Homo sapiens: one gene and its partner. The protein of the gene in region 1 binds, or shares a complex with, the protein of each later gene. Each region holds a gene or a part of one and is shown on either strand. Other genes may lie near its edges. A codon is read from its position in the direction of its gene.

Region 1 (15,332 bases):
GGTCTAACATCACATGGGAGATAACAGGCCCTAAGGAAATCAAAGTATCTTACCCCCAAGTATATTTTTGACATAGTTTGGAATGGCCCTGCAAAGCCATCTCTTGTTGGGAAAATTTATGTCCTGCAGAGATTCCCTTCCCTTTCTAGGCCTTTTCCTGATTTAGAGGAGATTTAACTAAGAGTCTGACACCTTAGAGACATTTACCATCTATTCTCTTGAAGGCTTCATCTACGTTACATGAACCTTGGCTTTCACAACCCACCTTATCTTAACCCCAAGCTTTTCTTCTGCTGACTTTTAACTCTTTAGGCAAAGTTTAACTTTTTCAGCCAATTGCCAATCAGGAAAATCTTTTAATCCACCTTACCCTGTCCCCACCAATGTATACCTTACATATATCAATTTATGTCTTTGCCTGTAACTTCTGCCTGTAACTTGGATAAAAATCAAGCTGTACCCCAATCACCTTGGGCACATGTTCTCAGGACCTCCCAGGACTATGTCACAGGTCATGGCCCTCACATTTGGCTCAGAATAAACCTCTTCGAATATTTAACAGAGTTTGGCTTTTTCATCAACAGTGCCATCACCTCAGAGCTAGGATTCCAGGGGTGGTCTGGGAAGACCCTTTCGCTGGGGGCCGGGAACAGGGGGTGCAGGGGAACATTAAGGCCAGTGTGGCAGGAAAGGTTTCCTGGACAGCCCTGGAGCAGCATGAGGTTTGGAAAGCAGACAGGCAGGCTGGCCCTAAATGGTGGAAGGTGCTCTGATTGGATCTCTGGCTTCTGGGGATAGCAGAGGGCAAACAGGACACAGGGAGTCAGGACCCAGAGCCAACCTCCCTAAGTCAGGTCCCTCAGGAGGAAGCAGGCATGTATGGAGGATGGTTCCTGCAGACCCAGTAACAGGCCGGGTGCTGCAGATGGCCAGAAGAGCCCTCAGTCCTGACTACAGCCCCATCTGACTGCCTCACCCTTCACCATAGTCTGCTCCCAGCTACCCAGGGATTCTCAGAGCCCTCCTCTGGAGACCAGTTCCACATTCTGGCCACGGGGTGACAGGAAAAGGGGGTTGTATGCTGCAGTGACTCTGCATCTAGGGTCACTTCCAGAAACAGGCCTGGTCTTGAGGTCAGGCTCCATCAAGGCTACCCTTTTGCAGCTCAGCAGGCCACGTCCAGCTTCTCTGGCTCCGAAACCCTGGGCTCCAATCCCAGTCCACAATTTCCAGTGGCCTGAGGCCCTCAGGCCCACCCTTCTAGAGAGAGCCCGAAGCCCCAAAGTTGCCCTTCCCTTAACCAGCTACAGGGCCGGGACCCTAAGGACTTAGACCCAATAATTTGAATTATAGCCCAGGCCCATTAAGACCTCATTAACTAATTAGCTGAGAGTGATAGAGTATTCACAGAGTATTCACTGGGAGGAGCAGGCCATTGGTAAGTGAGTGCTCTGGCCAAGTAACAGTATGCTAAGAAGACAAAATAGGCCAGGTGCCGTGGCCCACACCTGTAATCCCAGCACTTTGGGAGGCCGAGGCAGGAGGATCACTTGAGGTCAGGAGTTTGAGACCAGCCTGGCCAACATGGTGAAACCCTATCTCTAATTAAAAAAAAAAACAAAAATTAGCCAGGCATGGTGGCCCATGCCTGTAATACCAGCTACTGGTATTACCAGCTACCATACCGGCTGAGGCAGGAGAACCACTTGAACCCAGGAGGCGGAGGTTGCAGTGAGTCGAGATCATGCCACTGCACTCCAGCCGGGGCAGCAAAGCAAGAATAAATAAATAAATAAATAATTTATGGCATGGCGCCGTGGCTCACGCCTGTAATCCCAGCACTTTGGGAGGCCGAGGCCGGCGGATCACGAGGTCAGGAGATCGAGACCATCCTGGCTAACACGGTGAAACCCCGTCTCTACTAAAAATACAAAAAAATTAGCCGGGTGCAGTGGTGAGCGCCTGTAGTCCCAGCTACTCGGGAGGCTGAGGCAGGAGAATGGCGTGAACCTGGGAGGCGGAGCTTGCAGTGAGCCGAGATCCCGCCACTGCACTCCAGCCTAGGCGACAGAGAGAGACTCCGTCTCAAAAAAAAAAAGATAAAATAAAAAAATAATAATAATAATAATAATTTATGTCTCAAATAAATAAATAAATAATAAACTGAAGCTGGCTGGGCGCGGTGGCTCACGCCTGTAATCCCAGCACTTTGGGAGGCCGAGGCGGGTGGATCACGAGGTCAGGAGATCGAGACCATCCTGGCTAACACGGTGAAACCCCATCTCTACTAAAAATACAAAAAATTAGCCGGGCGGGCACCTGTAGTCCCAGCTACTTGGGAGGCTGAGGCAGGAGAATGGCGTGGACCCAGGAGGTGGAGCTTGCAGTGAGCCAAGATTGTGCCACTGCACCCCAGCTTGGGCAACAGAGCGAGACTCCATCTCAAAAAAAAAAATTAATAATAATAAACTGAAGCTAAGAGAGACAGGGCCAGACAAGAGAAGGGTCACTTGGCCTAAAACAGAGTCAGAAATGCCACAAAATGACTGACAAGAGCTCAGAGAAATCCAGCAGAAGAGCCACTTGAAAATTCACAAGACAGGACTGAGCCTCTGGGGTTCCAGCCACAATGCAGGACACCTCTGTTTGTAGGCAGCCATAGCACCCCACCTATCTGTATCTGTTCCATCATGCTCAGGGAGGCAGGGCTCAGATGGTCAGTGACATAAGAACTCACGGCGGGAATCAGAAGGAGGCTTTGTGTCTCTTGACTGTGGGGACAGTACTGCGTCACCCACCCTGGTGGCCCAGATTCTGAATCTACCATCCTATGGAACTGGTTCCACTTTCTGTCCTCAAAACGCTCTTCATTGACACAAAGAACCAAAGTGAAGAGAGGTGTGGCTTCAAGGAGACCTACCTGAAGGGAGTGAGGCAAAGCTGGGCAACAGTACCAAAGGGCTCTTGAACATGACGGGTGAAATCTTAGCAGGGGAAAGGTGACTGGTGCCATTTAGGAAGCCCCAAACCACACCAAGTCTACTGCCACCCTGTGTATTCATTCGCCTTCACATAGCTCTCCAGAGTGCAGAAAGCAAGCTTCTCTGATGTCCCTCTCTAACCTCATTTAATTCTCACAGCAATCCCGTGAGAGAGTGATTATCCCTGTTTTACAGAGGACAAAACTGAGGCTCAGTAGCAATGGGTCTCGGGTAAGGGACAGAACTCTCTGGTTTCTTCATCCCAACTCCTGCATCTTTCCCTGGACCAAAAGGCCTCAGGTCTTTGGCTCAAATTCAGACAAACTATTACTTCTTCTTTAGAGGTACTCGGAAGCTCCATTTCATCACAGAAGGTCTGAAACCAACAAGAAACAGTTCTGCCAATCAGGTTTATAGCCCCAACCAGCTGAGACCAGGTCCTACCAATGCTCCTAAAGTCTCAGAGCTATACTTTCTTAAATGTTCCAACATAGTTAGGAAGGAACAGTTCCGGTTGGTTTCCTGCATTATACTGCCTGGCCTTCTCTATATGTCCAATTTCACTTCCTCCAGAGATCAAGGAAGCAAAAAAAGAGAATGACTTGGATGAGACTTACGTTAAAAGAAGAAAGGGATAACCTGGTTCCACCACTCTCAAAACACTCCACCATCAGTGAACAGCAACCTCTTCTCTTGAGGGACTCCTCAGCCACTCCCCACGGCCTTCTCTCCACTGCCTGAATTGTGTAACTGGCTGTTCAGAGCCACAGCCTGGCTTTAAGCCATCCAACTGCTGTACCAATTGATGAGTCATGTTTTTTCAATTGGAAAAGAATGACAAAGTTATCCTCTGATTCAGAAAGGCAGCTGATCTTTCAGGCATGTGAGTGCTGACTGAGGAAACTGCACCTCTGTCCACCTGAGGAAAGCTGGATTTCTGTGATGGGTGGAGTGGTGGGGGTTGGAGCTTTGAAGCAATTAAATACCAGATGAAGGGTGAGAAACTTTTAGCTTGTGATTCCCAGACTCAGGGCTAGTGGATGAGGGCAGAATTGTGGAGTCAGTGAACACTAGCTATCTTTCTTTCCTCCCTCCTTCCTTCCATCCAGTATCACCCAGCTTTCCTGTATTCTTGTCCCATATCCCAGAGGATTCTAACAAGGACCAAACTCTGAATGAATGAAAACAGGACCGTTGCCTGACCCATTCACCATTGTATTTCTAGTACCTGGAACAGTGTTTGTCACACACTGGTGCTCAAAAAATAAGCTGTTGAATGAATTGATTAATAAAATAAAAACAAGGCACGGGGTAAGTACCTCCACTTCACACACTGTGGGAAGTTGGGGTATACAACTCTTAAGTGCTGGGGCAACTGTGGAGCTCCTGTCATTAAGCCAAGCTGCCAATAAGGCTGAAAACAACTTAAATATACTGCATATTAATGGGAGGACATTGAAGGTAAACAGCATTCACTTTTCAAAGGAATACGACTATAAGTGGCAAGCAGAGACAGTGTTCTTTGGGGCTCTTTAAAACTGCAATCAGCCAGGTGCGGCGGCTCACGCCCGTAATCCCAGCACTTTGGGAGGCCGAGGTGGGTGGATCACCTGAGGTCGGGAGTTGGAGACCAGCCTGATCAACACAGAGAAACCCCCATCTCTACTAAAAATACAAAACTAGCCGGGCATGGTGGTGTATGCCTGTAATCCCAGCTACTCGGGAGGCTGAGGCAGGAGAATCGCTTGAACCTGGGAGGCAGAGGTTGCGGTGAGCCGAGATCATGCCACTGCACTCCAGGCTGGGGAACAAGAGTAAACTCCGTCGAAAAAAAGAAAGAAAGAAAGAAAAAAGCTGCAATCAAATGGCCCACCCATCTGATGCCGGGTCCTCAGGATTCAGAGAAAATGTGTACCAAAAAGCCCCCAGGAAACTATAAATGCTGAGCATGGGACTTGGGTGCCTCTGGAATGTCCTTCTGCCTCAGCTACTCTGAGATAACATGGTTCCCTGTGTTCATGGAACCCAGATGGCCAAAAGTCAATGATCCAGCACTTAAAAGAAAAGAAAGCGATTCAAGAGCCTCTGTACCCACCTAGGCCTCAGCCTCCCCAGGACCTACTCACCTATACTCTTCACAACAGGTAACGTTGCCTCTGGCACCCATCATATCCCCTGAATTCAGCATCAGGACTGATCTGCCATCAGCTCTGGCAGGGAGAGGCCCTTACAAGTGCCAAGAAAAGGAACACGAACAATATTCTGTGACCACAGCCAACACCACACAGAACTTCCCAGAAGCTCTCCAGGGCGAGAACACCAACCAGAAGGAAGTGACAGCTTCCATCATTCTGTGCTAAGTGAGCTGAGTGAGTGGCCGTCTCTCACCTTCCAGATATTTGAATGATACCTACCATTCCAGCAGCCAGCACAAGTCATTTAATATGAATGCCAAAAACACAATCCCTGAGGACAGGTGCAGGAGACCAGATGCCAGGAAAAACCCCGGCCCCACCCAAGAGTTGGGGAGAGCCCACTGCTCCTCCACCCTTATTTACCACCTGAGCCCCTGCACCCGCCAATCATGCTGCTCAGTCTGTAACTGCGGGTCTGAGTGAGCACCTACATTTGGCTGTTGAGGGGCAGCTGGTGGAGTTGGCAGGCGACTCTGCACTAAGTTCTCAGGTTGAATGGGAGTTGGGTCGAGGGAAGCAATGGACGCAGAGTTGGGGTGAAGAGTTGCGGTGGGTCAGCGGGGGTGAAAGGACATGGAGATGTCATTTTTAACAAGATTGGGTGAGGGTGGTAGGAAAGGAGGCAGCAAGAGTTCGGGACAGTTTGGCAAAGACTTAGGGATGGGCTGTCCTCAGTACGGCAGGAGACGCAAAGGAAGGTATACAGTGGCTAGGAGACTAAGGACGAGAAGACACAGTTAAGACTTGGAATAAGGCTGAGATCGGAGTTATCCAGAAGAAAGCGGTGAGCTCAACAGGGCACCTACTTTGGGGGTGGGTCTTAGATGAGAGGGCGGAGGTAGAATGTTTGGGATGAGCAGATCTTGGGGAGCTAGACGGGGGATGGGGGTGACTGGGATAAGAAAGCTGAGCCAGAAAAGGGGAAACCTGAATGGTGGGTCTCGGGGAGGTAAGCGCGGAGCATCGGGATTACCAGAGGGGTGGGGAGAGAGGATGAGGTGTGTCAGGGCGGGGCGAAGGGACGTGGCCGAGATCGGTGTTGGAACTGGGGTAAAGTGGGGTCACGAGTGAAGCTGCATTTAAGCAAGACCGCTGGTGAGGGGATGCGGGCGCGGGCTGGGGGCTGGACAGACGGAGGGGACGGGGCCACAGCGGCGGTGCAGGGGGAAGGCTGGGTCGGAGAGGAGCGGGCGCGGGCTGGACAGGGCTGAGGGCCCTGAAGCCGGGCAGTCTCAGGGTAACCAGGGGCTGGGAATCGCGGAGGGAGCGGGAGGCCCACCGCCCGTTCGCGCCTCGGCCCTCCCACCACTCCGCCGCCCTCCTCGCATCTTGACCCCCTAACTCACCAAGCGGAGCGAGGAGCGAGGCGAGGGGCGCTCCCGGCCGCGGCAGCCCCTCAGCCTCCGAGCCGACGATGCGGTCTCTCGGCCACTGACAACAGGAAGCGGCGCCCCGGCCCCTGACGCCATCACGTTGGCTCGGCGCTCCGGCCCTGCCCCGGCCCGCGGTGCCAATCGCGCAGCCCGAAGGAGCCTTGGGGCGGGGCCAGCTGCTCCCGGAAGTCCCTGGGAGCTGAGCCCCGGGGCAGATGCGAGGTCTGGGAGGCTGGGGAACTGGGGGCGCCTGCAGGGCGCAGAGAGGCGAAGGCACCGGTGTCAGGGAGAACGCATCCGTTACCGCCCGCCTCCCGCAGGTCTGCGTCAAACTAGATCCTGGCTTCTGGGTTCCTGACCTCGTTTGGCCTCAGAACCATCTGTGCAACATTGGGGCTGTCACTTCGCCTCCCTCAGCTGAAGAGTTCCCACTTGTGAGTGGGACTAATAACGCCTGCCCTATCTTTGCCTCTCCGAGGGCAGCAGTGCAGCCCGTGGGGCGGAGCCCGGGCCCAAATTGGAGCCTCCGCCTTGCGCTTTCAGGATAAACATAGCTGTTTTGACCACACTTTATCCCAAGGGAACGCCTTGAGGTCCCCTTGGGCACTCTCCCGTGTGTAACTCGCCCATTAGCACCGCCTGGCTTGAAGCTTAGGGGTCTGGTTATTCTCTTCTAGCCCGTGTAGAGGATTTCTTTCTTCCTTTCTGCTTTTTTTTTGAGACAGGGTCTCACTCTGTCGCCCAGACTGGAGTGCTGTGGCACGATCACGGCTCACCACAGCTTTGACCTCACGGACTAAGTGGTTCTCCCACCTCAGCCTCCAAGCAGCTGGGACTACAGGCGTGCACCACCACGCCCAGCTAATTTTTTCTTTTTTCTTTTTTTTTTTTTTTTTGCGACGGAGTCTGGCTCTGTCGCCCAGGCTGGAGTGCAATGGCGCGATCTCGGCTCACTGCAAGCTCCGCCTCCTGGATTGACGCCATTCTCCTGCCTCAGCCTCCCGAGTAGCTGGGACTACAGGAGCCCGCCACCACGCCCGGCTAATTTTTTTATGTTTTTAGTAGAGATGGGGTTTCACCGTGTTAGCCAGGATGGTCTCGATCTCCTGACCTGGTGATCCACCCGCCTCGGCCTCCCAAAGTGCTGGGATCACAGGCGTGAGCCACCGCGCCCGGCCAATCTTTTCATTTTTAAAAAAATTTGTTTATTTTGTAGAGACAGGGGTCTCACTGTGTTACCTAACCTGGTCTCCAACTCCTGGCCTCAGGCGATCCTCCTGACTCGGCCTCCCAAAGTGCTGGGATTACAGGCATGAACCACCACACCTGGCCTGTATATCTTCTTTCTAACGCAAAAGTGACATTTCTCTTTCAGATGAACTCGGAACAAAATGTCATAAGTGGTGGCCACAGGTAGTGAAGAGCAGGGCAGGGAGTGTTGGCAGGGACCCATGCTCTGGACACTTTATACTTGCAGGCTTTGGTCAATTGGGAGCCTAGGGCCTGAGTGTGGATGAGGAGAGGTACTGCTACATGCCAGTCCTAAGTGGGCACAGGGGTTGGCTGGGGAACGGGCCAGTTCTTGGAAGCAAGCTTCACTGCCCTCGGCCTGGGCGTCCTGTGCTCTTTTGGCTTCTCTGGGTAGGAAGGTGTCCCTCTTATCTCTGCAAAGTTCAGAGTCCCACTGTCTGCTTTCAAGTATAAAACCAGCACTTGGGGGTATGACCCTGGACTGTATGAGGGCCGCCCTTTCAGTAATTCTCTCTCCAGGAGTGAGAACCTCCCCTTCTCAATTTTAGACTAGATGGGTCTGAGTGTGTTTACTGCAGTTAATGGTTGAGCAGGAAGATTAGAAATAAGGACATAGAGACAAACTATTCTCTCGGTGTTAAACTCATTTTAAACAAAGTGGAAAGTAAGGGATTTAGTAGGGAAATCCTTTCACCTTGGCAAAACGATAGTATACAACTGGCACAGCATAATCCTTGGTGGCTTGGCACAAGCATTCCCTGTCCCCCATCAAGCACATAATGTCCCTCAGTAATTCCACTGCATTTTTGTGCAGCGGCTGTGTGCTGGAGCTGTGGGGAACCCCTCGGTAATCTCTTGTCTGCTTTTTAGGAGCCCCTATCTCCTGGTCTTCTCTTACTTCCCAAGCTACCCTGCTTCTTTGAAAAGTCTTCAGGCTTGCCTACCTCTTCTCAGCTTGCTCTGCATGCCTTGGGGAAGCTGCATAAAGCATGGATCATGAAGGAGGGGGCGCAGAGGAGAGGGAAATGCATGTTTGCACAAATGGACCCTGAGCCCACCAGGCAGGCTCCAGATGGGGGGGAAAAAAAAAAAAAAAACCCTTACATTATCACGTGACTTGCGCAAGAAAAAAGGTACCTGCAAAGGGCCAAGGGACCAGAGAGGAGAACTTGAGAGGTATTCTGGAGGAGGCGACTTTTGATATGAGCTTTCTAGGTGAGTAAAGGGTATTGCAGCTGAAGGGACTGGCTGGTAAGTGGCCAGCACATAGGAATACAGGCTGAGCTCAGGGAAGGGTGCACCCAGAGGTGGGGAGGAAGGTGGGAAGTGAAAAAGGAGGCTGGGCACGGTGGGTCATGCCTGTAATCCCAGCACTTTGGGTGGCCGAAGCTGGTGGATCACTTGAGGTCAGGAGTTCGAGACCTGCCTGGCCAACATGGTGAAAGCCCATCTCTACTAAAAATACAAAAATTAGCCAGGTGTGGTGGTGTGTGTCTGTAGTCCCAGCTACTAAGGAGGCTGAGGTATGAGAATTGCTTGAACCCGGGAGGCGGAGATTGCAGTGAGCCAAGATAATGCCACTGCACTACAGCCTGGGCGACAGAGTGAGATCCTGTCTCAAAAAAAATTTTTTTTAAATAATAATAAAAATAAATAAAAATAAAAGGAAGTGAAAAAGGAAAGGGTAAGGGGAGAGGGCCAGAATGGAAGGGGAGCTGAAGACTGAGCAAGGCAAAGTTGGAGGCCAGTGCAGAAAGGGCTCAAACCATTTGCAAGGATGGTTCACATCCCACTGGTCTGTCAGCTTGGATTTAAAGCACTACCCAGCGTTATTCAAAGCCACACAGGAGAACTGTAGGCATCAGAATGCCCTGGGGACAGGTCCAAAATGCAGATTCCTAAGCCCCACACTAACCCTAAAGAGTCACTCTAGGATGAGGTCCAAGAATTTGGGCTTCACCCCACCTCTCCTGTCCCCTGCCCTCACCACTGAGGACCTAAAGGATAATGAAAGGGGGAAATCTGTGCCCTAAATAATCCCTTTTGGCAGTTACTTTCTGTTTTCAAAGTTCAAGTCTGTCCTCCGGGACTAACCTAGGAGATGAGGGATAAGGGAATTAACATTTATGGAAAATGGAAGAACATACATAGGCACCTGTGTTCACCTAATATTCCTTACCAGCCACCTGAAAGGTGGGTGCTGCCATTATCTCTATTGTATGGATGAGAAAATAGGCTTAAAAGAGGTTAAGTGGCCAGGTGCGGTGGCTCATGCCTGTAATCCCAGCACTTTGGGAGGCCGAGGTGGGTGGATCATGAGATCAAGAGATCCAGACCATCCTGGCCAACATGGTGAAACCCTGTCTCTACTAAAATACAAAGAATTAGCTGGGCGTGGTAGCACGCATCTGTAGTCCCAGCTACTTGGGAGGCTGAAGCAGGAGAATCGCTTGAACCCAGGAGGCAGAGGTTGCAGTGAACCGAGATCACGCCACTGCACTCCAGCCTGGTGACAGAGCGAGACTTCATCTCTTAAAAAAAAAAAAAAAAGAGGTTAAGTAACTTGCGGGGGGGCCACAGCCACAGAAGTAGTAAGTGCTAGAAGTAGGATTCTTACCTAGTTCTTTCTGATTCTAGTTTCAGCTTTGTTCAGTGGATTTTAGAGCCAGGGCTGTTTAGGTTTGAATCTCATCTCTATCCCATATTGTTTGCTGGGACTTCCTTAAAACAGTGTGGGGCCCAGGGCAACCCAATGAGTATGGGGCTAAGATAGCTGACAGCTGCCACCGAGTCAGCATTTTTCACAGGCCCGTTGAGATCGCACTGAAGACAGAAATTTCTAAATTGAATTTTATTGATGTTCAGGAAAGAGAAGTAAGTCACAACGCCCCTTCGCCCTCAGCCCCAAGCAGAGAGCCCAGAGTGTGTGACCTCAGGCAAGTGCCAAAACCTCTCTGAGCCTCAGTTCCTCATTGTAAATAGGGGCTAATGTCAGTTGATGTGAGGAGTAAATATCATGATATCCTGGCTGGGCACAGTGGCTCACGCCTGTAATCCCATAACTTTGGGAGGCTGAGGTGGGTGGATTACTTGAGGCCAGGAGTTCGAAACCAGCCTGGCCAACATGGTGAAACCCCATCTCTACCAAAGATACAAAAATTAGCCAGGCATGGTGGTTCATGCCTGTAGTCCCAGGTACTTGTGAGGCTGAGGCACAAGAATCGCTTGAACCTGGGAGGCTGAGGTTGCAGTGAGCTGAGATTGCGCCACTGCACTGCAGCCTACATGACAGAGTGAGACTCTGTTCCAAAACAACAACAACAAAAAAAAAAAAAAAAAAAGGAAAAGAAAAAAAGAAAAGAAAAAGATGATATCCTTAATGCAAGTTCTGGCCTGTAGTAAGTGCTCAAAGATGAACAGTTGTTACTATTCTAGTTGTGGCTAATTTTCACCCTGCCAATTGGGCAGGTCCTTGCCTTCCATTGCTCTTGTAAGCACTTGAATGAGAGCCTTTCTTGTCTGAACCCCAGATATATTCTTGCTTGGCATCTGATTGAAATAATAAAACTAGTGTTAATGCACCCTCCTCTCTGGACACTGTAATCACTGGTGTGCTCTTCAGTTCTGTTGTAGGAAGCGGTTTCTTTCCACTCTCTCTTTTTTAAAAAATTGATTAAAAAGTGTTGTTATACACACGGTTTACAATTCAATAAAATGAAACGGAATGGGGATGAAACATAACGAACAACAGCAGTTCATTGTCCCTATTGTTCCCACCCTTCTGGGGAGCAGGCTTTCAGCAGAATCTTCTGGTGCTTCTCCCCACATCTCCTGCACGTCTCATTGTTTGTATTTTATTATTTTTTTGAGACACAGTCTCACTCTGTCACCCAGGCTGGAGTGCAGTGGTGCCATCTTGGCTCACTGCAACCTCCCCCTCCTGGGTTCAAGCAATGCTCCTGCCTCAGCCTCCCTACTAGCTGGGATTACAGGCACCTGCCACCATGCCCAGCTAATTTGATATTTTTAGTAGACGCGGGGTTTCACCATGTTGTCAAGGCTGATCTCAAACTCCTGACCTCACGTGATCCACCTGCCTTGGCCTCCCAAAGTGCTGGGATTACAGGCGTGAGCCACCGCGCCCAGCTGTCTCATAGTTTTAGACACTGTCTGTTGCCTTCCTGGTAAACCTGGCAAGGACTTAGCTCTTTTACACCCCAGCCCTGTCCATTCTTGAGGTTTGGGTTTGCCACAATTTGTAGAAAATGAACAGTGTTTACAGAATTGTGACTATATAAATATTATTCACCACAGAGCTTAATAATGTGCTGTGAGGTCAGGCATGGTGGCTCACGCCTGTAATCCCAGCACTTCGGGAGGCCAAGGTGGGCGGATCACCTGAGGTCGGGAGTTCAAGACCAACCTGGCCAACATGGAGAAACCCCATCTCTACTAAAAATACAAAAATTAGCCGGTGTGGTGGTGCCCCCTGTAGTCTCAGCTACTTGGGAGGCTGAGGCAGAGAATCACTGGAACCTGGGAGGTGGAGGTTGCAGTGAGCCGAGATCATGCCACTGCACTCCAGCCTGGGCAACAGAGTGAGACTCTATCTCAAAATATAATAAAATAAAAATAAAATACACTCTGATGATGGCTGCTTCCCCCAAGGGTGCCTCAAGCTCTCTCCTTTTCTTTCAGTGCCATCTGCCATTATCGTGCCATCGTTCTCTTCCAGTGCTCTGGTGGAGCAGGTGGCGCCCAGGCCCACAGTGCCCTCTCCAAGTTCTGTCCTCCATGTGCTCAAGTTATCCCCTAAACTTGTCACATGTGGTCATCCTGGAACTTTGCTTAACTGCTTCCTGGGTTGGGGCCTTTATTTCCTGGCTCCCTTCTCTTCTTGCTTAATTTCCCCTCCCTTTGCTGCAGCACATACTCAGTTAAGAATCCCTTTCTAACATTAAAAAAAGAAAAAGAGAATAGTTCTTGGATCTCCTCATGATAGAAATTATATCTTTAGGCCGGGTGTGGTGGCTCACGTGTGTAATCCCAGCAGTTTGGGAGGCCGAGGCAGGTGGATCACTTGAGCTCAGGAGTTCAAAACCAGCGTGAGCAACATGGTAAAACCCTATCTCTACAAAAAGTACAAAAATTAGCCAGGTGTGGTTGCATGTACCTGCAATCCCAGCTACTCAGGAAGCTGAGGGAGGAGAATCTCTTGAACCCAGGAGGTGGAGGTTGCAATGAGCTCTGATCATGCCACTGCACTCCAGCCTGGGCGACAGAGTGAGACCCTGTCTCAAAAAAAACAAAATAAAGTTGTATCTTTAATATCCATTAACTGAAAAATAAAAATAAAAATAAGGACCAAAAATTACTATGAGGACACACATGCTTTTAAATGAATTTGTGTGTTATTAACCACAGTAACATCTATGAACTTGTGAAAAACTGTTACTGGTTTAGGCTTAAGGGTTTGCCCAGTCTAGCTTCAATGTTCAATGGGTGGGCACGGTGGCTCACACTTTGGGAGGTGGCCAAGGCAGGCAGATCGCTTAGTCCAGGAGTTGGAGACCAGCCTGAGCCACATAGTGAAACCCTATCTCTACAAAAAATTTAAAAATTAGCTGTGCGCGGTCACGCGCACCTGTAGTCCCAGATATTGGAGGGCAGTGGGGGTTGGCGCTGAGGTGGGAGGATCACTTGAGGCCAGAAGGTCAAGGCTGCAGTGAGCCGAGGCTGAGTCACTGCACTCCAGCCTGGGTGGCACAGCAAAACTCTGTCAAAAAAACAAAACAAAACAAAACAGACAAACAAGAACCAAAGTTGGATGCAGTGGCTCATATCTGTAATCCCAACAACTCGGAAGGCTCAGGCAGGAGGATTGCTTGAGGCCAGGAGTTCAAGGCCAGCCTGGGCAACATGCTGAGACCCTTGCCTCTGAAAAAATTAAATATTAATAAAAACAAACCCTAGTAGCTTCAGTCTTTGATTCTCCATCCCTCATTTCATCCCTTTGTCTTCTGGTAATAGAATTTCCTTCTTGTTTTTCTTTTGGGATGAGCCACCTTCGCTCCCTGGGATTCTGCTGGGATTGAGTTACCGCCTTCCGGGCTCAAGCGATCCTCCCACCTCAGCCTCCCAAGTCGCTAAGACCATAGGTGCATGCCACCATGCCTGGCTAATGTTTTGTATTTTCTGTAGAGCCGGCGTTTTGCCCTGTTGCCCAGGAGTTTTTCCTTTAATGTTCTCCTGCTACTTACTAATTCACTTTGTCACCCTGTGAGCTCATAAGAGCAGAGAGATAGCAACAGGAGCTAAAAAAACTCTAAGCTGTGAAAAAATATTAAATATGAAATCATGATAGCTATTAGCTTAATTTGTTTTAGGCAAATTGCAAAGTAATTTTTTGGGAATCAGTGTCCCACTGCAGTGATTCCATATGGGGATTCCTAATTCCCAGTATGTTTTTAAAATAATTTGTAAACACCTAGTACAAACGCATGATATGAAATTCAAGAGGTACAAAAGGGCATACAGCCCTGCACTCTCCCAGTTTCCCTCCCCGAAGGCAACCGCCATTACCAGTTTCTCGTGTGTGCTTCCAGAGGTATTCTTGTCCAACAGAACTTCAGTGATGAAAACAGTTGCCTGTGCTGCCAGTTTGGAAGCCATTAGCCACACGGGGCAGTTGAGCACTTGATATGTGGCTAGTGTGTCTTAGCAGCTGACTTTAAAAAAAATTTTTTTTTTTTTAAAGACTCAGCGTCTTGCTCTGTTTACCAGACTGGACTGCAGTGAGTGTGAACATGGCCTCAAACTCCTATTTATTTATTTTTTGAGACAGGGCCTCACTCTGTTGTCCAGGCTGGAGTGCAGTGGTGCAGTCATAGGTCACTGCAACCTTGACCTCCTGGGCTCAAGAAATCCTCCCACCTCAGCCTCCTAAGTTGCTGGGACTACAGATGAATGCCACCATGTTTGGCTGATTTTTACTATTTTAAATTTTTTGCCTGGGCGCAGTGGCTCATGCCTGTAATCTCAGCACTTTGGGAGGCTGAGGCGGGCAGATCACCTGAGGTCAGGAGTTCGAGACCAGCCTGGCCAACATGGCGAAACCTTGTCTCTACCAAAAATACAAAAATTTGCTGGGTATGGTGGTGCGTGCCTGTAGTCCCAGCTACTTGGAGGCTGAGGCACGATAATCGCTTGAACCCAGGAGACAGATGTTGTAATAAGCTGAGACTGCGCCACTGCACTGCAGCCTGGGTGACAGAGTGAGACCCGTCTCAAAAAAAATAAAAATAAATAAATTTTTTGTAGAAAAGGGGCTTCACTATGTTGCCCAGGGTGTTCTTGAACTATTGGCCTCAAGCTATCCTCCCACTTGGCCTCCCAAAGTGCTAGGATTACAGGCATGAGCCACTGTGGCCAACCTAAGTTTATATGTAAATAGCCATATGTGGCTAGTGGCTACTGTATCAGACCTCACAGTTCTGTACAGATAACGCACAGTGCACAGTAGCATACTATAC
Region 2 (15,932 bases), on another chromosome or scaffold:
CAGATGCATGGCATCTGGTTCTTTATCTTGCAAATGCATTCTTTTTCATCCCTATCAAAAAGAACTAAAAACAGTTTGCATTTGCTTGGGACAGATAATTATATGAATTAATGGACTTGCTCCAAAACCATGTTAATTCTCCCATCCTTTGTCATATTTTAGTCCAAAGAAAAATAGATTGTCTGGACAGCCCAAATAACATGGCGTTAATCCACTTTTTTAATGATCATTTGATCTAATCAGATGAGCAAGGAGTGAGAAGTCCATTGGAAGCCTTGGTAAGACACATGCACCCCAGAGGTGGGACATAAATTTTCCAGTGACTCAGGAGGCTGCAAAATCAGTGAAGCTTCAGAGATTCAGTGGTCCGTGCGTGCCAGAACATCCTCTCCAAAGTAATGAAAAAATTATTGCATTACACAACTTCTTTCTTTTTTCTTTTCTTTCTTTTTCTTTTTTTTTTTTTTTTTTTTTTGAGACAGAATCTTGCTCTGTTGCTCAGGCTGGAGTGCAGTGTCACAATCTCAGCTCACTGCAACCTCTGCCTCTGGGTTCAAGTGATTCCTCTGCCTCAGCCTCCCAAGTAGCTGAAACTATAGGCACACGCCACCACGCCTGGCTAATTTTTGTATTTTTAGTAGAGACAGGGTTTCACCATGTTGGCCAGGCTGGTCTTGAACTCCTGACCTCAGGTGATCCACCCTCCTCGGCTTCCCAAAGTGCTGGGATTACAGGTGTGAGCCACCACACCCGGCCACAAAGAAGAAAAGGCAATGCCTGATTGGCTTCTTTGGGTTCTAAAGATAGCCACATTTGAGAATTCTGCTTCAACTCATATTCTAGAGGACACAAAAGTTGCCAGCTTTAAGTTGGGCCAGAGTAGGGAAGAGTTCTGTTGAAAGCACCCCTGCCACTTGTACCCCATGACCAGGCAGACCTTATGGTACAGAGGTAGATATGGTGGGAAAAGACTCTGTGTGGGTCTATGGTCAACTTCAATCTACAAAACACAATGTAGCTCACTAGGGTTCAGAAACGTAGTTATGCCATTTGCAGCAGAGAACGACGTATCTTTCAAAAATTAGTTGACCATGAGCCATTTAGAGACAACGTGGCCAGAACTGGCTGTAATGAACTATATTTTCTCTGACTCGTGAAGTCATTAGAGGCAGCAACACATCCTAAAGTGGAAGTGGTGTTTGTAGGATCAGACATGTGCAAAGCCAAGGGCATGAGTAAACTGCATGATCAGGTGGCCCAGAGCCCCAGGAAATCTACCACTGTTGCACCCATATCCCTTCCTTTGTTCACTACTGGCCATTGTAGGGGAGGGTCGCTTGTGATCAACTGACAGAGGAAGAAAAAGGCTAAACTTAATTTACAGATGAGTAGCTTAGTTGGTGGTGCAAGCCAAAAATGGGCTGCACCTGCACCATGGGTAGCCCTGAGAGACAGTGTTGAGGGGAAATCCTCCCGCTGGGCAGAGCTTTGGGCAGCACATCCAGTGCTTCACTTGGGTACATACAGATTCATGGGCTCTGGCAAATGACTTGATAGTTGGTCAGAGGCTTAAAGAAGAAAAACTTGAAGATCAGGATAGAAAAAAAAAAAAGTCTGGAGAAGGGGCATAAGTATGGATCTGTAGACATAGACATGAAATGTAAACATCTATGTATCACACGTTCATGCCCCACAGAGAACATCCACATGGAGGAGGCACTACAATTTTTCTAGTTGACCGGTTGACTTTGGCCACCATCCCTTACTTCTCCCAAGACTGGAACAAGAAATGAATGAGGGATTATCCATGGTGGCAGGGATAGGGGTTATGCATGAGCTCAGCGGCATGGACCCCAACTCACCAGGCCTGATGTAGCTACACTGTTGCCAAATGTCCAATCAGCAGAGACCAGTGCTGAGGACTTGATATAGCACAATCCTCAAGGAGACAACTCAGTGGTAAGTAGACAAAGTTGGCCTCATTCTACCCCATGGAAGGGGTTGCAATTCATTTTGCATTTAATCAACATGTATTCTGGATATGAGTTTGCCTTTCCTGCTTGCTGGACTTCACAAGCAACATCACTCTGTAGCTGGGCATTTTTCCCTGTTAGCAATTTGCATGCAGATAAATCAATTCAACTTTTATAAGCATGTACTATGCGTCAGGCTCTGCGCTAGCTACTGGGGATGCACAGATGAAGTCTTGCCCTCAGTCATGTAATAGCTATTATGGACTTTTAAAAATCCTGCCTTGGGGTAGGATAGCAAGATTTCCGGTTCTAAAATCATTTCACAAGTTAACTAAGCAGATTTTGAGCTTAAATGACTTCATGATTCTGTGGCTCACTTGGGAATGGGAACCAGAATCATTTATTTTCTTTGATGGCCTGACTCTTAAATAAAATGTTTTTATCCCATGTTGATCAGATCAATAAGTATTACTGGTAAGTAGCATCTTTGTTTGTTTGTTTTTTGAGACAGAGTCTTGCTCTGTCACCCAGACTGGAGTGCAATAGCGCCATCTCAGCTCATTTCAACCTCTGCCTTCCAGCTTCAAGTGATTCTCCTGCCTCAGCCTCCCGAGTAGCTGGGACCACAGGCACATGCCCCCATGCCTGCCTAATTTTAAAATTTTTTTGTAGAGACAGGGTCTTGCTATGTTGCCCAGGCTGGTCTTGAACTCCTGGGCTCAAGCAATCCTTCTGCCTTGGCTTCCCAAAGTGCTGGGATTATAGGCGTTAGCCACCACGCCCAGCCAACCTCTTATTTTAGGTGTACACATTTCACTTCCATGTTGTTAGAGTTCCCAAACTTGTTTCTCCCTATATCAGAAAATGTAGGGAGAAAGGATGAATGACAGCAGTCACAGGAAGCAAACTTGATCTATCCCAGTCACTCCCTGAGCCCCAGACACCCACACTTGCTAAGAGGCAATCTTATTTTTAATCACATTGCAAAAGCTGAGTCACCTTAGGAAACTCCTCAGGAATGATTAAAATCATCCCAGAAAAGCATAGAGAACAAGGAGAGAATTGTGGGGGAACCAGGGCAAAGCCAACATCAAGAGTCAGAAAGGCCACTCGTGGCTCTCAAATCTATACATAGTAAGGGCTGGCTGTAGCGATGGTTGCAAGGACTGGTGATCCTTTCAGAACTTCATCTTAAAGCTCCATTTGCCTATCAAGTCTGTTGCATTTTCACAAGATTGCCTACTACAGATAAGAATGCTGACAAGTTTTGTGACCTTTTTTTTTTTTTTTTTTGAGATGGAGTCTGCTCTGTCACTCAGGCTGGAATGCAATGGCACGATCTCGGCTCACTGCAACCTCCACCTGCCGCATTCAAGCAATTCTCTTGCCTCAGCCTCCCAAGTAGCTGGGACTACAGGCATGTGCCACCATGCCTGGCTAATTTTTTGTATTTTCAGTAAAGAAGGGGTTTCACCATGCTGGGCAGGCTGGTTTCAAACTCCTGACCTCATGATCCACCTGCCTCAGCCTCCCAAAGTGTGCTGGGATTACAGGAGTGAGCCACCACTCCCGGCCTTTTTTTTTTTTGGAAGACATTTCGCTCTTGTTGCCCAGGCTGGAGTGCAATGGTATGATCTCGGCTCACCGCAACCTCCACCTCCCAGGTTCAAGCAATTCTCCTGCCTCAGCCTTCTGAGCAGCTGGGATTACAGGCATGCACCACCACGCCCGGCTAATTTTTGTATTTTTTGTAGAGATGGGTTTTCTCCATGTTGGTCAGGCTGGTCTCAAACTCCTGACCTCAGGTGATCCACCCACCTTAGCCTCCCAAAGTGCTGGGGTTACAGGCGTGAGCCACAGCACCTGGCCAGAAATGAGGACATATCTTAGTCACACATATCAGTTGTCCAATCTTGAGACTGGGTTGTCTTACAGGCCCTAAGGAGAAGTGGTCCTGCAAAGGAGGGAGAGGTAGCAGAAGAGGCCAAGAATAAAGGTCAGAGGACAGGGAGAAGAATCCAAAGAATGTGGTGTCTTGAAATCAGAGAGTTTTCAGAATGAGAAAAGAAAATGTTGGCTGGGTGTGGTGGCTCATGCCTATAAGTAATCCCAACACTTTGAGAGGCCAAGGTGGGAGGATCCCTTGAGGCCAGGAGGTCAAAACAAGCCTAGGAAACATAGCAAGGCCTTTTCTCTACAAAAAGTAAAAAAATTAAGCAAGTGTGGTGGTGCATGCCTGTGGTTCCAGTTACTTGGAAGGCTGAGGTAGAAGGATAGCTTGAGCCCAGGAGGTCGAGGCTGCAATGAGCCATGATTATGCCAAGGCACTCCAGTCTGGGCAACAGAGCGAGATCCTGTTACAAAAAAAAAGACAAAAGGAAAAAAGAAAATGGGCTGGATGCAGTGGCTCAGGCCTGTAATCCCAGTACTTTGGGAGGCCAAGGCAGGAGGATCACTCTCAAGCCCAGGAGTTCGAGACCAGCCTGGGCAACATAGTGAGACCCTTGTCTTAAAAAAAATTTTTTTTGAAAAGGAGAAAATGGCCAATTCCAAATGTTGAAGAATCGAAGATGAAATAATAAGATAACGACTAAAAAGAGTGCTTGTGCGTGTGATTGCTGACCTGCCAGGAGCACTGCATGAGTGTTGGGACAGACTCCAGATGGTAGGAGTTGAAGGATTGAAGAGGTGGTGAGCTAAGTGGAAAGAGCTGGGACAGCCCTTTCAAAAGGTTCCAGGAAGTACAAGCAGAGTGGGCTAGGCTCTGAGCTTCACGAGGCATGAGCGATGTGAGAGAACTCCCATTTATTGAGCTCCAACTGTGTCATCTCATACACATGAGTTTATCACATAGATTTCCTCATTCAATCATCTCACAACTCTATGAGACAACTGAAAACATATCCATTCTGCTAACAAATAATATGAATTTCAAAGAAGTTTGCTTTCTTTTTTGTGTGTGTTTTATTATTTATTTTTGAAATGGTGTCTTGCTCTGTTGCCCAGGCTGGAGTACAGTGGTGCGATCTCGGCTCACTGAAACCTCTGCCTCCTGGGTTCAAGGGATTCTTTTGCCTCAGCCTCCCAAGTAGCTGGGATTACAGGCCCCCACCACCATGCCGGCTAATTTTTATATTTTTAGTAAAGACAGGGTTTCACCTTGTTGGCCAGGCTGGCCTTGGACTCCTGATCTTAAGTGATCCACCCAATTCAGCCTCCCAAGTAGCTGGGATTACAGGCCCCCACCACCATGCCGGCTAATTTTTGTATTTTTAGTAAAGACGGGGTTTCACCTTGTTGGCCAGGCTGGCCTTGGACTCCTGATCTTCAGTGATCCACCCACCTCAGCCTCCCAAAGTGCTGGGATTATAGGCGTGAGACACCAAGCCAACCTATTAGCATTTGTAGTAGAGACAGGGGTCTCACTTTGTTGCCCAGATCAGTCTCAAACTCCTGTCTCAAAGCAATCTTCTCAGTTCAGCCTCCCAAAGTGCTGGGATTACAGGCATGAGCCACTGCACCCGGCCAGTTTTTTGTTTACTAAAATATTAGTAGACTGGACATGGTGGCCCATGCCTGTAATCCCAGCACTTTGGGAGGCTTAGGCAGGATTGCTTGAGCCCAGGAGTATGAGGCCAGCCTAGGCAACATAGGGAGACTCCATCTCTACAAATAATTTAAAAAATTAGCCAGGCACGGTGGTGTGAGCCTATGGTCTCAGCTACTTGGGAGGCTGAGCCAAGAGGATCACCTGAGCCCAGAAGGTTGATGCTGCAGTGAGCTGTGATCATTCCACTGCACTCCAGGCTGGGCAACAGAGTGAGACCCTGTCTCAAAAACACAAAACAAAACAAAAAAGAAATTAAAATATTGATAGACAGACCTCCTGATCCAGCGAGGGCACTCTTGCTCCAGCTGTTCGCCACAGGACTGTTCTTATTTCCTTCCCCATGGTCCATGTAGCATCCATAGTGTGTGGTTTTGGTCACCTCCCAGCCACCTAGGTCTCACTCCACTGCCAGAGGAGCACCAGCCAGGAGCACGATGCCATCAGACGACACACCAGACACTGCTCCCCTCAAAAGATGGCTTTCAACCCCCAAAAAAAGAAAAGAAAAAAAAACTGGCCGGGCACCATGGCTCATGCCTGTAAACCCAGCACTTTGGGAGGCCGAGGCTGGTGGATCACCTGAGGTCGGGAGTTCAAGACCAGCCTACCAACATGGAGAAACCCCGTCTCTACTAAAAATACAAAATTAGCTGGGCGTGGTGGCGCATGCCTGTAATACCAGCTACTTGGGAGGCTGAGGCAAGTGAATCGCTTGAACCTGGAAGGCGGAGGTTGCGGTGAACCGAGATCGTGCCATTGCACTCCAGCCTGGGCAACAAGAGCAAAACTCCGTCTCCCTCCGCCCCCTCCAAAAAAAAAAAAAGAAAAGAAAAGAAAAGGAAAAAACGATCCAGCCCATTCCTCTGCCTGAAAGATGATGCATTCTGGAAGTGTTGCTGCATTTTGTTTTTTCCCAGTGCTTCATTCTATTACCTCCTTCATCTCCATTCCATCTGAGAGGCAAGCCTGCTTGGACTAGATAGCAATCTCCATGCCTCAGCCCAGAAAGTCAAACGCAAGGCAGTTAAGAAGCATCTCAAAGCCCTTATAATCATTGACCAAACACCACAGCTGGGATTGATTTTCTCCTGGCCCCAACTGAGCACTGTTTCCTTCTACCTCTGCCTTCAGCATTCAGACCTCAATGCACATAAGGATTCTTCGGATTATAAAGATTTGGGGGAACCATGGCTTGGGGAAGTGACGGGAAGATACATACACTGAGGAACAGTGGCAGGCACTATGCTAGCTGCTTTACAGAAACCAGTTCATTTAAGCCTCACATAACTATTCTGAGTTACAGATTACCATAACCATTAAAAGCCGTATTTAGTAAAGTGAAGCCATGTATCCAAGATCAGAAATTAAGGTGCATAGGTGGGAGGGCCAGGCTTGGAACCAACTTTGCCTGGTCTTAGAGTCTGGGCTGCCCCTGGAGATTGGCCAATCTGGGTTGGATCCCGGCGCAGTTTGCATTCTGGCTGAATGATCTAGACCACAGCAGTGTGAGCATCCTGCCTGCCCTTCCCACATGCAAGGCAACTGGGAAAGTTTACATGAGATTGCAGATTTGAAAGGTACTTTAGCACAGAGCACTGCACACTTGCTCCTTACTATTCACACCTGACGGGATGCCTTCTTTTTTAAGACAGAGAAAGAGGACGAGGCCACTTATCTCTTCAATGATGCCATCATTTAATCTCTTGACATCTATTTCTTATCATTGAGCTAAAGCCCCAAGAGTCAGGCCCTTCAATTCACCAGCAAATGTACTATCTCCTTCTCCTTTGTCACATTTTGTTCATTTTAATACTCTTCACTGCTGAATGACTACAGAAAATCATGGCATACACTGCTAACAATAAAGGAAATGCAAGCCTTCTGGCCATGCAGTGTCTGAAGGGCTACCTGGATGGGCGTAAGTACCAGGAAGCAACTCCTGGCCGTGGGAACTGGAAGAGCTGTGTCTTGCCCTTCCTAGCCCTTTTGAGTCCAGGCAAGGGATTAATTTCTCAGGCCCTGTGATATTGAGAAATACATGTTTAGTTTTCATTCAATTTCCTGGAATACAAGTTCTAAAAATTCTTGGAATTTTCTTTTTTGTTTGTTTCTGTTTTTTGTTTTTGAGACGAAGTCTCACTCTGTTGCCCAGGCTGGAGTGCAGTGGTGCAATCTCGGCTCACTTCAACCTCCACCTCCTGGGTTCAAGTGATTCTCCTACCTCAGGATTCTGAGTAGCTGGGATTACAGGTACCCACCACCATGCCTGGCAAATTATTGTATTTATAGTGAAGACGGGGGTTTCACCATGATGGCCAAGTGGATCTTGAACTCCTGACCTCAGGTGATCTGCCCACCTCCGCCTCCTAAAGTACTGGGATTACAGGTGTGAGCCACTGCACCTGGTGGAATCCTTGGAATTTTCAAAGTGGTAAGTGTCTTTTTTTATTTTTATTTTTTTCTGAGGTGGAGTCTCGCTCCGTTGCCCAGGCTGGAGTGCAGTGGCACAATCTCAGCTTACTGCAAGCTCCACCTCCCAGGTTCAAGCCATTCTCCTACCTCAGTCTCCCTAGTAGCTGGGATTACAGGCACCCACCACAACGCCCAGCTAATTTTTTTGTATTTTAGTAGAGACAGGGTTTCATGATGTTGGCCAAGCTGGTCTCAAACTCCTGACCTCAAGTGATCCGCCCACCTTGGTCTCCCAAAGTGCTGGGATTACAGGCATGAGCCACCATGCCCGGCAATAAGTGTCTTTTTTTAGTTCATCAGTTGACTGACGGCTAGCAGTCCCTGGGTAGCTTTGGATGGGGGCTGGTCGCCAGAAAGACAAAGGTGAGATTAGAGGGTTGGAATTTTTAGCCCCACCTCCAGCCTCTGGGGAGGGTAGAGGGGTTGAAAGTTAAATTGATTACCAGTGGCCAATGGTTTAATCAATCTTGCTTACATAATGAAGCCTCCGTAAAAACCCAAAAGGCCTAGGTTCTGCTAGCTGAACACGTGGAGGTTCCTGGAGGGTGGTATGCCCTTCCCCCATACCTCGCTATGCATCTCTTCATCTGTACCCTTTGTGATATCCTCTGTAATAAGCCGGTAAAAGTGTTTCCCTGAGTTCTGTGAGTCATTCTAGCCAATTAATGAAACCCAAGGCGGGGGCTGTGGGAAGCCTGACTTATGTCCCATAGATCAGAAGCACAGGGAAAACAAGCTAGGGGCTGGGCGCAGTGGCTCACGCATGAGATCCCAGCTCTTTGGGAGGCCAAGGCAGGAGGATCACAAGGTCAGGAGTTTCAGACCAGCCTAGCCAACATGGCGAAACCCCCTCTCTACTAAAAACACACAAATTAGCCAGGCATGGTGTCATGTGCCTGTAATCCCAGCTACTCGGGAGAAATCGCTTGAACTCAGGAGGCAGAGATTGCAGTGAGCTGAGATCGTGCCACTACATTCCAGCCTGGGCAACAGAGCAAGACTCTGTTTCAAACAAGCAAAAAAACAACAAACACAACTTGGGGCTTGCAATCGGCATTGAAAGTGGGGGACAGTCTTGTGGGACAGAGCCCTCAGCCCGATCTGATGCTGTCTCCAGGTAGACAGTGTCAGAGTTGGATTGGAGGACACCTAGCTGGTGTCCACTGTAGAAGTGATTGCTCGGTGTATGGGGAACCCCCACCCACCCACACACACACACACACATCTAGTGTCAAAAGTGATCTGTGTTGTGAGAATATAGGAGAAATGGAGTTTGGTTTCCCCTATGTATGACCAGAGACCCAGTTTCTTAACTCTAAAAGCAAGATCTTGGGGACAATTGTCCTTCCTTCCTTCTTTTATCCCAGAGAAAACTAAGTGACAGAATATACTGGAGTGTAGTACTTGGACTTCCTTGTAACAACTCTGGGTTTTTTTTGTTTTGTTTTGTTTTGTTTTGAGATGAAGTTTCGCTCTTGTTGCCGAGGCTGGAGTGCAATGGTGTGACCTGAGCTCACTACAACCTCCGCATCCTGGGTTCAAGCGATTCTCTTGCCTCAGCCTCCTGAGTAGGTGGGATTACAGGTGCCAGCCACCACGTCCGGCTAATTTTTGTATTTTTAGTAGAGATGGGGTTTCAGCATGTTGGCCAGGTGATCCACCCGCCTCGGCCTCCCACGTGCTGGGATTACAGGCGTGGGCCACTGCACCCAGTGTACAGCTCTAGGTTTTAATCCATACCGCTTCTCTTACTTGCTGTGTGCCCTCGAGCAAATCACTTCACCTTTCTTAGTATAGGTTTCCTTCTGTGATAAAGGGCATGGACCATTGTGAGAACTACACAGCACACTTCAGGCTGAGGTGGATCCAGCTTGGACCCCCCCTTGCTACTGAAGGGCAAAAACATCCCAGCACAAGGCAGTTTTACCTCTCCACAGTCCGCTGCCCAGCCAATGATTTTATTACAAACCCTAATTTCTTTTGCAAAGAAACATCTTGAACTGGTCATGAACAAAGTGGCTTTCTCTGACCAGCAAGCAGGTGGCGATTCCATTTCCATCAGAACTGACCTCCTGCTGCCCAGGGAGGGGGAGTGGGGAGAGGGGAGGGAGAGGAGAGGCCTGATGTCACTCAGCCCTACATAAGGGCCTCCTTCAGGCTCCTGCAGGCAGTTTGGAAGCAGCTGGAGGAATGAGTTAGGTTCCCGGTTGCGGGACAGTTTTTTTTTCTTTTTTAAAACAGACACAGCTACTGAGTGCAATGCCGCCTCCACAGAAAATCCCAAGCGTCAGACCCTTCAAGCAGAGGAAAAGCTTGGGTAAATTTCTTGGGGTAGCTTTCTGGGTTATCTAAAGAGAGGAGCGGATCTGGCCTTCTCTTGATCTTTGCTTCTTTTCTTGATCTTTGCTTCTTCTCTTGTGCTTGAAATATTCACAGCAATCAGACAAGAGGAAGTTGCTGGAATCCGGGCAAAGTTCCCCAACAAAATCCCGGTAAGACACCACTGGACTTCCGCTGGGGGGCGTGGGGGTGGGGTTCCGATCCTGTTCTCTGAAAAACCAAGAGCAGCCAACAGCTTCCCTCTGTCTGTTCCAAGTTCCTAACACTCACGCTGAGTCACATTCTTAAGGACTGACACTCTTGACAGGTGGTAGTGGAGCGCTACCCCAGGGAGACGTTCCTGCCCCCGCTGGACAAAACCAAGTTCCTGGTCCCGCAGGAGCTGACCATGACCCAGTTCCTCAGCATCATCCGGTAGGTGGCGCAGAGCGTGCCCCGGAGGAAGGTGCGCTGGGTGCGCCGGGGCTGTTGGGCTTTCTTCGTTTGGCAGTTTTATTTTGGGGATGGGGGCACGTCAGGGGAAGAGAGGAAAGAGATTTTTTTGAAGTCACCTTTTAGATTCACTAGTACCCTGAAAAGATGCTCTTAGAATTACTCTATTTTAAACCCCGGGCGGAGTGGCTCATGCCTGTAATCCCAGCACTCTGGGAGGCTGAGGCAGGTGGATCGCAGAGGTCAGGAGTTTGAGACCAGCCTGGCCAACGTGGTGAAACCCTGTCTCTACTAAAAATACAAAAATTAGCTAGGCGTGGTGGCGGGTGCCTGTAATCCTAGCTACTTGGGAGGCTGAGGCAGGAGAATCGCTTGAACCTGGGAGGCGGAGGTTACAGTGAGCCGAGACTGTTCCACTGCACTCCTGGGCAACAAGAGTGAAACTCTGTCTCAAAAAAAAAAAAAAAAAAAAAAGAATTACTCTATTTTAAACAGGTAAGGAGAATCCCTCAGACAACGACAACAACAAAAAAGACCTGCCAACATTTCTAAGAATTTCCTAAAGTAGTTAGTCTTGGCTCTCAAGCTAGGCCGGGAGATCCTTTCTTTCAGATCTTGTGTGAAACCGAGTCTGCGCGTCCGTTGCAGAGACCAGCACCTTTTCCAAGTGTATGTGTGCCTAGGGGTGGGGACTTCTCCCCAAAGGAAACGTTCCCTGCTCAGAACACTGAGAGAGAAAAGCATCCCCCAAACACACTCCTCCCTTGGTTAAGCCAGAGGTACAGCAAAGAACAGGCAGCTATTCTTAAAGCATAAAGGACATCACTTGACACATGGATTCAGTAAAAAATGATTTGGGAGTAAAGTAAATATACCCGATGAGTAAGTTTTCAACAGGGTTGAAAAGTGCTTGGAAGCTGCATCGCTGTTGCAGCCTGTTTTTTTGAGAACACACGATGAATGAGTGTCTTTTTATTTTGCTTTATTTAGCTCTGTCGCCTAGGCTGGAGTGCAGTGGTGTGAACCTAGTTCACTGCAGCCTTGGCCTTCTGGGCTCAGGCGATCCTCCCATCTCAGCCTCCTGAGTAGCTGGGACTACAGGAAAGCACCACCGTGCCCGGCTAATTTTAAAAATGTTCTGTAGAGATGGGGGTCTCACGATGTTGCCCAGGCCTCTTTTTATTTTGTTTTACTGAGTTAAGAGCATTCTGATTTCCTCTCTCTAGGCAAACTTACATGTTAAAGTTAGTTCAGTGTGAATGGAAGATGGCCAAGGGAGAATGAAAGTTAGGATTAGGGCCAGGCGCAGTGGCTCACACTGTAATCCCAGCACTTTGGGAAGCCAAGGCAGGGCAGATTACCTGAGGTCAGGAGTTCAAGAGCAGCCTGGCCAACATGGCAAAACCCCGTCTCTACTAAAAATACAAAAATTACCCAGGTGTGGTGTTGCGTGCCTGTCATCCCAGCTACTTGGGAGGTTGAGGCAGGGGAATCAAAAAAAAAAAGTGAAATATCAGCGAGACTGTGCATCACCTTTGTACTTCTAGGGAAATAGCTTTAATTTCTTTTCTTTTTTTTTTTTTTTTGAGACGCAGTCTTGCTCTGTCACCAGGCTGGAGTACAGTGGCGCAATTTCGGCTCACTGCAACCTCCGCCTCCTGGTTCTCCTGCCTCAGCCTCCCGAGTAGCTGGGACTACAGGTTCACGCCACCACACCCAGCTAATTTTTGTATTTTTAGTACAGACCAGGTTTCACCATGTTGGCCAGGATGGCCTCGATTTCTTGACCTCGTGAGCTGCCTGCCTCAGCTTCCCAAAGTGCTGGGATTAGAGGTGTGAGCCACTGCATCCAGCCCAATAGCTTTAATTTCATAGCAAATGGAAGTTATTTGCTTAGCATTTTTGTGTTGTCATGTTTCCTCAACCTGTTTGTGTTGTCATATTTCATCCATGGAATGGCCTCACCCTTTTGACCCAAATGGGAAGCCTTGTAGTTCCTAAATCTCAGGGAAGAAGAAGGGAGCAATTCAGTCTTCTTGAGTGTCATGAGGCTGCAGATCCCTGGGCTGTCTCGCAGGCCATACCCTCACCACCCTCCTGCCCATCCCAGGAGCCGCATGGTCCTGAGAGCCACGGAAGCCTTTTACTTGCTGGTGAACAACAAGAGCCTGGTCAGCATGAGCGCAACCATGGCAGAGATCTACAGAGACTACAAGGATGAGGATGGCTTCGTGTACATGACCTACGCCTCCCAGGAGACATTTGGCTGCCTGGAGTCAGCAGCCCCCAGGGATGGGAGCAGCCTTGAGGACAGACCCTGCAATCCTCTCTAGCCCATGTCGGGAAGGATGTGTGCTCTGACAGACGTGTCAGATGCTGGCAGAAGGGATTGGTTTTCTCCTGTGTATACAGTGGAGGAGTCTGAGAAGCAGGGATGCCTGGGGTGATCAGCTCCAACCAGTGGCAGCAGAGTGGTGGCTCTTCCTAGTTTAGTTTTTGTGCTCCGTGTTCTTGTGTCCTTCTAAGAAAAATGTGGGCTGCTCTTGAAAGTTATATAATTATCATTTTTTTTTTTTTGAAACAGGGTCTTGCTCTATTGCCTAGGCTGGAGCACAGTGGCATGATCTTGGCTCACTGCAACCTCCGCCTCCTGGGTTCAAGTGATTCTTCTGCCTCCACCCCCCGAGTGGCTGGTATTACAAGCACATGCCACCACACCAGGCTAATTTTTGTATTTTTAGTAGAGACGGGGTTTCACCATGTTGGCCAGGCTGGTCTCGAACTCCTGACCTCAGGTGATCCACCCACCTCGGCCTCCCAAAGTGCTGGGATTACAGGCGTGAGCCACTGCATCCAGCCATATAACCGTATTCTAAATAAGAAATGGTTGGCTTGTGTGATGGTTTTGTGTAATGAGCTAGAGATAATATTTTAAGTGTCTTCTGTGGTATATGTGGGAGGGCCATTAAGGAGTGGGTTTCACTCCCTGCATGTGGGCAGGTGTCCCATCTAGGGCTCGGTACTAGAGAATCTCTGGCCTGTAGGCTGTCTCTGTGGAACCCAGTGAAGCCAGCGTGAACAATGGTAAGCTCATCTGGAGGTGCTCTTATCTGTGTCATTAGAGAGATTATTCGATTTCCCCAGCATTCACTCTATTTAGTTATTTTCTGTCATTCTCTTTTTGTCTTTCTATACCATACATATTTATGCCAAAGCTGTAACTTCTCAACATGAAGTCATTTAAACCATGTGCATGTTTACTATGTGCCAAGCTGTATTCTAAAATAAATATTCTTTATTTTAAAGGAGCTTTATTCTTTGGCTTCTTATCACAACTCTCTATGGCTAACTACTGTTACAGTTAACCCACACAATGGGTGGGTTTGATCGCTTGGTGGGTGACGGTCCAATGACTACTCCCAAGGAGGATTTAAAAAGGGGATTTTATTAATTCTAACACGTAAGGAGGACACTGGGGATAGTTCCCAAAGCAGTGCCTCCCTGAACAAAAGTGAATGCAGGGCATTTATTGGGCAGAGGTGGAGTCAAGGAGTACAGGCGCAGTCACCGGCCATGCTTCCACATATGTTGCCTGTGTATAAAATAGTGAATAAGCTTCTCCCTAGGAGGAGATTTTTTTTCCCCCATTAATGAGCTTTCTATTATTATCTTTTTTTTTTTTTTTTTGAGACAGAGTCTCGCTCTGTCACCCAGGCTGCAGTGCAGTGGTGCTATCTCAGCTCACTGCAACCTCCGCCTCCTGGCTTCAAGCGATTCTCCTGCCTCAGCTTCCCCAGTAGCTGGGATTACAGGCATGCGCCACCACGCCCAGCTAATTTTGTATTTTTTGTAGAGTTTTTGTATTTTTAGTAGAGTTTCTCCATGTTGGTCAGGCTGGTCTCGAACTCCTGACCTCGGGTGATCTGCCCACCTCGGCCTCCCAAAGTGCTAGGATTACAGGCATGAGCCACTGCACCCGGGTTTTTTTTTTTTTTTTTTAATCGTAGGTTTCTTACTGGTCCTGCTTCCATGAGTGGCTGTGACCAGGGGAAAAGGAAGAGGAACCTGTCGGCACAGGGAGGGGTCATCTTCACAACATTCCATTTAAACACAGAACTAGACAAGCACAGAGTCACTATTGTGGTTAGAAGTTGGCAGCATGGGGCCGGGCGCAGTGGCTCATCCCTGTAATCCTAGCGCTTTGGGAGGCTGAGGTGGGCAGATTGCCTGAACTCAGGAGTTCAAGACCAGCCTGGGCAACACGGTGAAACCCCATCTCTACTTAAATACAAAAAATTAGCCGGGCATGACAGTGCACACCTGTAGTCCCAGCTACTGGGGAGGCTGAAGCAGGAAAATTGCTTGAACCCAGGAGGTGGAGGTTGCAGTGAGCTGTGATCACGTCACTGCACTCCAGCCTGGGCAACAGAGTGAGACTCTGTCTCAAAAAAAAAAAAAAAAAAAAAAAATAGTTGGCAGCATGGGAAGGGGAAGGAACAGGTGGGGAGTGCGGGTGTTGTTAAAAAAAATACAGTCTCCCTCACAACTCGGGTGCCTGGGGGGAACTTGATCTGCTTCAACCCGAGAGGAATCAGAAGATCCAAAGCAGTCTGGGAAGGCCAGAACCGTCAGGGATGGAGGGAGAAGGAAAATCCACGGTGGGAGGTCTGTTTGGCAACTGGGCTGAAGGGATTGCCCTCCCCCTACTGGGGTCCCTCCAGCCCCTCCGGTCTGGTAGGAAGGGGGCAGCCTGCAACCCCTGAGGGCAGAGGTGGGGCTGCCAGATGCTCCAGGCAGGGAGCCAGAAAGGGCTCACAAAGGCTTGCCCTCCAGGGGGATGAAGGCACTGCCCCCCACCTTCTCTGCCAGGGTGCAGCGGTCCTTGACCTCCTCGTAGCAGTTTGCTTGTAATTCTTGCTTGATCCCTGTCAGCTTCTTCTTGATGGCATTTTTGGAGCTGGCATAGATCATTTTGCTCGTAAGGGGTGCCCATTCAGTGGCCCAGAAGATAAACACCAGGTCCTCCTTCTTGCTCTCCTTGGTCTCATAGATTGTGTCGTAGAGGGCACAGTGGCAGTTCTTATCTGGCAGCATCTTGACAAAGG

What was found.
Region 2: the proteins of PLEKHM1 (region 1) and MAP1LC3C are in contact, whole or in part, in a crystal structure (PDB 5DPW), measured with the Homo sapiens proteins. Residues at the interface, in NP_055613.1 of Homo sapiens: Glu632, Asp633, Glu634, Trp635, Val636, Asn637, Val638, Gln639, Tyr640; in NP_001004343.1 of Homo sapiens: Phe13 (codon at 10,351), Arg16 (codon at 10,360), Lys17 (codon at 10,363), Glu25 (codon at 10,506), Ile29 (codon at 10,518), Phe33 (codon at 10,530), Lys36 (codon at 10,539), Pro38 (codon at 10,545), Asp54 (codon at 10,748), Lys55 (codon at 10,751), Thr56 (codon at 10,754), Lys57 (codon at 10,757), Phe58 (codon at 10,760), Leu59 (codon at 10,763), Val60 (codon at 10,766), Pro61 (codon at 10,769), Glu63 (codon at 10,775), Leu64 (codon at 10,778), Ile72 (codon at 10,802), Arg76 (codon at 12,942), Phe114 (codon at 13,056).

What each region holds. Positions count from the first base shown.
Region 1 is NC_000017.11:45,484,130-45,499,461, forward strand, and holds the start of PLEKHM1 (pleckstrin homology domain-containing family M member 1), read right to left. Parts: upstream 6,593-15,332; 5' UTR 6,523-6,592; exon of another isoform or gene 5,108-6,522; intron 3,734-5,107; exon of another isoform or gene 3,653-3,733; coding exon of another isoform or gene 3,599-3,652; intron 1-3,598. UniProt on the Homo sapiens protein: Acts as a multivalent adapter protein that regulates Rab7-dependent and HOPS complex-dependent fusion events in the endolysosomal system and couples autophagic and the endocytic trafficking pathways.
Region 2 is NC_000001.11:241,993,391-242,009,322, reverse strand, and holds MAP1LC3C (microtubule-associated protein 1 light chain 3 gamma), read left to right. Parts: upstream 1-10,224; 5' UTR 10,225-10,314; coding exon 10,315-10,372; intron 10,373-10,491; coding exon 10,492-10,547; intron 10,548-10,702; coding exon 10,703-10,809; intron 10,810-12,937; coding exon 12,938-13,160; 3' UTR 13,161-13,833; downstream 13,834-15,932.